Regions from separate parts of the Homo sapiens genome. Here region 2 is linked to region 1. Evidence: fine-mapped expression QTL. Tissue or cell type: whole blood. Region 1 holds a variant in brackets; the other region holds the start of a gene. All regions are shown on one strand. Distances are between the middles of the regions.

The links. PIP is the estimated chance that this variant, and not a neighbour inherited with it, causes the effect.
Region 2: TRAPPC9 starts here. The variant in region 1 is fine-mapped to the expression of TRAPPC9 in whole blood (INTERVAL, PIP 0.94).

The regions. Positions count from the first base shown.
Region 1 is chr8:140,269,200-140,271,877 of GRCh38, forward strand. All of the region lies in intron 15 of TRAPPC9 (trafficking protein particle complex subunit 9), which reads right to left. The region is part of intron 1 of LOC105375779 (a long non-coding RNA gene); the gene reads left to right. Among named protein-coding and RNA genes, the nearest start is that of PEG13, 170 kb to the left of the region's middle. The variant G/A (reference allele first, on the strand shown) is at 1,273.
Region 2 is chr8:140,456,647-140,459,324 of GRCh38, forward strand. It overlaps TRAPPC9 (trafficking protein particle complex subunit 9), which reads right to left and starts at 1,098. Exons shown (of 23, transcript NM_001160372.4): 1 at 993-1,098. RefSeq lists silencers at 643-692, 803-1,192, 1,283-1,522, 1,643-1,952 and an enhancer at 1,352-1,870.

The sequences.
Region 1 (2,678 bases):
AAAATATACTGAAAACTGCAACTTACTTTAAACTGCATTAAAAAAAAATAAGATGGATTTGGCCAGGTGCAGTGGCTCATGCCTGTAATCCCAGCACTTTGGGAGACTGAGGCGGGCAGATCACGAGGTCAGGAGATCAAGACCATCCTGGCTAACACGGTGAAACCCTGTCTCTACTAAAAATACAAAAAATTAGCTGGGCGTGGTGGCAGGTGCCTGGAGTCCCAGCTACTCGGGAGGCTGAGGCAGGAGAATGGCGTGAACCCGGGAGGCGGAGTTTGCAGTGAGCCAAGATCGCACCACTGCACTCCAGCCTGGGTGACAGAGCAAGACTCTGTCTCAAAAAATAAAATAAAATAAATAAATAAATAAATAAATAAATAAATAAATAAGATGGATTAAAGGATGGATAGGAGGCTGGATAGATATGTAATAAGGCAAATATAACAAAATGTTCATTACAGTACCTAGATGGTTTGTATGTAAGTGTTTGCTATAAAATTCTTTCAACTCTTCTGCATGGTTCAGTATTCTTATAATAAAAGTTTGAGGATGGAATGATGGTTGATACAGAACAAGTTCCAGATGAAGTCAGAGACATAAGGAACACCAAGGATGGTCGGGCACGGTCGCTCGTGCCTGTAATCCCAGCACTTTGGAAGGCCAAGGTGGATGGATCACTTGAGGTCAGGAGTTCAAGACCAGCCTGGCCAACTTGGTGAAAGTACATCTCTACTAAAAATACAAAAAATTAGCCAGGCATGGTGGCAGGCACCTGTAATCCCAGTTACTCAGGAGGCTGAGGCAGGAGAATCTCTTGAACCTGGGAGGCGGAGGTTGCAGCAAGCCAAGACCACGCCACTGCACTCCAGCCTGGGCAACAGAGCGAGACTCCATCTCAAAAAAAAAAAGAGAAACACCAAAGGCTAAGGTAGCCTAGAAAGGTGGGACAGAAGCTGGACCTTGAGATGAGACCTCAGATGACCAAGAAGCAGAGGAAGGCCTCTCCGGGAAGGGGGCGGTGTCTAAGGTAGAGCAGCAGAGGCAGTGACCTGCACAGAGCAGGCGTGGAGAGGGGAGCATCTAAGGCAGAGCCGTGCCGCACATTCAAAATCGCACAGTGGTTCCCACACGCTTGTCTACGTCCTCCACTCAGCCAACAGGAGAGAAAGGCATGCTCCCATCAGCCTCATTCTCGAAATGCGGCTGATAGGGCCATGCCACCAAATGTCTTTCCGTCACCAATTACTCGGTACTGAGCACCTGCTATGT[G/A]CCAGGCCCTGGAAATAGAAGAGAAAACCCAGTCACTGCCTTGGAGAGACCATACCCTGATTAGAGAAAGAGACCAATAAAGAAGCCATCACCATACACAGTGGCAAGACCTCCTGTGGCACTAAGTCAGAGCAGCCTGAGGCAGCAAAGGAGACCCAGGAGCCCAGGCTTAGGCAGGCTTTCCAGAAAGGGCAGCCAAGCCAGAGCCCAGAGGATAAATGCTCCGGAGCTGAGGAGGCAGGAGGGGTGGGAGAAGTCAGCATGGCGTGCCCGGGGAGGAAAGGGTGTGTCTATGGCAGATGGCAGGAGCATCCAGGAAGCCAAAATTAGCTCCTGACAGCAATGCGACTCCAGCTGAAGAGGAGAGGTGGCCATAGATGAAGCCAAGCATGGGGCAGAGGCTGGGCCACACAGGGCCGCGGGGGCCAGGGCGACAGCAGCCACTCATGGATTTCTGAAGACAGAAGCAGGTGAAGACTTTTGCTTCAGAAAGAAAGGGGGATTTTGTAATGAATAATGGGCACACGATTACCACAGAGTTTATTTGAGGTAAGGAAAAAATGTTTTCCAGTTGCTAAGCTGGGAGGGCAAGTTAAATTACAGGAGATGTGAGAAAAGTTTGCCACGTAGACTGTAATTTTCTGTAATTCAATATTAGCTTGCTTGTTCAAGTATCAACCAAACTCTATAACCAATTAATTAAGTTCAGAGTACCAGATGAAGGATTTTATGCCAGAGAAGCACTTTCTACCTCACCCAAATTGGTCCCAAAAGGAGGGTGGGTAGGAAAGCATGAAATTAAGGTAGTATCATTAAATTTCTCAAAGACTATACAAAGTTTTTAAAATAAGACACAAATAAACAACATTTTTAAAAGAAAAAATGATTAAATGAACCACATTAAAGTTAAGAACTTCTGTTCATCCAAAGCCACCACTAAGAGGTAAAGGCAAACAAATCATAGTATGGGAGAGGATGGTCACGCCACGCGTCCAACAAAGAGCTCACACCAAGGGTATACATAAAGAAGTCCTCCAAGTCAGGAGAGATGGGGAAGGGGAGGGAGAAACAGAGATAGAGACAGAGAGAGAGAAGACAACCAATGGGGGAAAAAAGGGCAAAGTCCTCATACAAAAGAGGATATACGAGTGGCCAGAACATTGGAAAAGTGCTCAACTTCACCAATCATCGGGGAAAAGCAAATTGAAACCCGAATGCTACACCATTATATACCTCACTCTCACCACTCTCATCTCAAGAATGAATAACATGAGTGCAAACACCAAGTAAAGGCAGGTGAAATGAATCTATGCCATTAGAAGTCAAACAGTGGTAGCCTTAGGCAGAGAAGTGGCTAGACATCTGATGCACAAAACTTCAATCCTCATGACAACTCTACAAAGTGG
Region 2 (2,678 bases), 190 kb after region 1:
GTTCCTGGGCCTCCAACATCATCCACCCGGTGCTTTGTTTCAGGTTAACAAATAAAGATGTCATAGGTAGCTATGACTACCTTAGAAACACGGGACAGTCACCAGTTTAAACTGGGGCCGTGAGGGATGGAAGGGAAGTCACTCCCCCATACCTTTCAACTGGGCCTTGCTTCCAGCGTTTTAATTCCTCTCTCTATAGAAACATTTGAAGACAGACAACGCATCCTAACACGGGAAAACTTTCGGTTAACAGACATTCACGTTGGGAAGGTCTGCAGGGGTGGAGGGGATTGGGGTGGGCTGACAGGGAGAAGACCACAGGCCAGTAGCCTGACTTCCTCTCCCCAGGGTTCCCTGGGATAAGTTGGAGTTGACAGCGCGCTTATCCCAGAGAGCACCGCCTGATGCCGCCCAGCTAGATCGCAGGCACTTTGAATCCAGGAGACAGGAGGGAAAGGGCTAGGGGAGAAGTCCGGGAACTCAGGGCGGGGAAAGCGCCGGGGGCGTGGGCTGTGCTGGGCCCCAGGCCCCAGCCGCGCGTCCCAGACCCCGCGGGCTCCAGTGGGCTTAGCCAGGCCCAGGGGCGGGGGGCTCCAGCGCCGCGGACGGCCCGGGAGGGGAAGCCAGGCGGAGACAGCTCGGAGGCACAGAGGGGAAGGGGACCCCCGCCGCGAGCTCGGGAGAGCAGAGCCGGCCCGGGCAGCAGGTGTGGGCCGGGTCCCGGACAGGTGTCCGCCGAGTCTTCAGCGGGTGTGGGACACGGCCTTGGACAGATGTAAGCAGAGCGCCAACAGGAGCAAGGGCGCCTCGAGCAGGTGCACGCTGAACCCCGGCCCGGCAGCGGACCCGGACAGGTGTGGCGGGCTCCGCCCGGACAGGTGAGGGCCGGGCGAGCCCCTCCGCGGGACGCGCCGACTCCACGGCCAGCCGCGCAGCCCTCCCCGCAGCCGGTCCGAATTGCCTGACCGGGAGCCCCCCCGCTTTGCACTTACACAGCCGGTGGCCCCGGGCCCGGAGCGGGAGCCCACGACCTGGCGGGCAGCGGGGCCGAGCAGCCTCTGCGGCCACTTCCCAGGCTCTGGGCTGGCGCTTCCTACTGGCGGCCGAGCCGGCGCTGCTCCTGCGCGTGCGCGGAGGCCAGGCCTGGGCCCCCGATCCGTCCCGGGTTTTGCAAGAGACGCGAGGGAAGCAAGGGGGTAGGAGCGAGGGAGAAAAGAGGAAGGAGGAGCGAGGGAGAGAAGAGGGGACAGGGAGGGAGGGGACATGGGGAGGGAGGAGGAGGAGGGAGGAGGGAGAGAAAAAGGTGGGGTGAAAGAAGGAGGGAGGAGGAGCGAGGGAGAGAAGCGGGGACGGGGAGGGAGGAGGAGGAGAGTAGGAGGAGGAGGGGTGAAAGAAGGAGGGAGGGGCAGCGAGAGAGAGAAGCGGGGGACAGGGAGAGGGTGGAGGAGGGAGGAGGGAGGGAAAAAGGAGGGGTGAAAGGAGGGAGGAAGAGGAGGAGGGAAGGAGGGAGATGGAGGGAGATGGAGCGAGGAGGGAGGGAGGGACCGGAGCAAGAGAACAGAGACTAGGAGGAAAGCTTCTGCACCTGGGGCGGCGCAGCTGGAAGGAGGCCCAGTTCTGTCCCCGCCGCTTACCAGTCCTTCAGGGCGCGCAGCTCAAATTTCACTTCCTCTGTGAAGCTCAGGGGTGGAGGCCCCGCGGAAGCCCACTGTGGATCCCTGCGGCACCCCCTGTGACCCTCACGGTACCCCCCGTGACTCCCACGGTCGTGCCCCCCACGTGGGTGGGTGACCGTGGCGCGCGCGGCCTGGGAGCGCCTCCAGGATCGCAGGGCCCGGGAGGCACGTGAGGTGCGAGCCCCAGCCTGGGCCGGCTTCCCCCTGTGTGGCGCGCGGTCTTGATCCCCAGCTGGCACCATGGCACTCCCGACTTTGAGGGCCCCAACAATCCATCCACATAAAAGGTTCCAAAGAGGCGACAGGGGCTAGGACAGCTGTCGTTAGTTCAGTGCCAAGGCGCCAAGCTTGCTAAGTGCGGGCAGAAGCCATTTAAGGATTTAAACCCCTCTGGGTTCAAAAATAAAATAAAATAAAGCAGGAGATGGGGGAGGCTTACAGACTTAAGATGCCCAGCACATGAATTAACAGTGGCATCCGCAGGGAAAATTGAAAACAGAGAGCCGCTCTCCGTTATGTATGTTTAATGTTCTGTTTGAATCTTTTAACATGTACATGTATTTCTTTTTCAATTAAAAAATCCTGGCCAGGAGAAATGGCTCACACCTGTAATCCCAACACTTTGGGAGACTGAGGCGGGTGGATCACTTGAGGTTAGGAGTTCAAGACCAGCCTGGCCAACATGGTGAAACCCCGTCTCTACTAAAAATACAAAATTAGCCAGATGTGGTGGCGCGCGCCTGTAATCCCAGCTACTCAGCAGGCTGAGGCAGGAGAATCGCTTGAACCTGGAAGACAGAGGTTTCAGTGAGCCGAGATCATGCGATTGCACTCCAGCCTGGGCAACAACTGCAAAACTCTATCTCAAACAACAACAACAACAAACACTAAAAAGGGCTGGGTGTGGTGGCTCACACCTGTAATCTCAGCACTTCGGGAAGCCAAGGCGGGTGGATCACCTGAGGTCAGGAGTTCAAGATCATCCTGGGCAACATGGTGAAA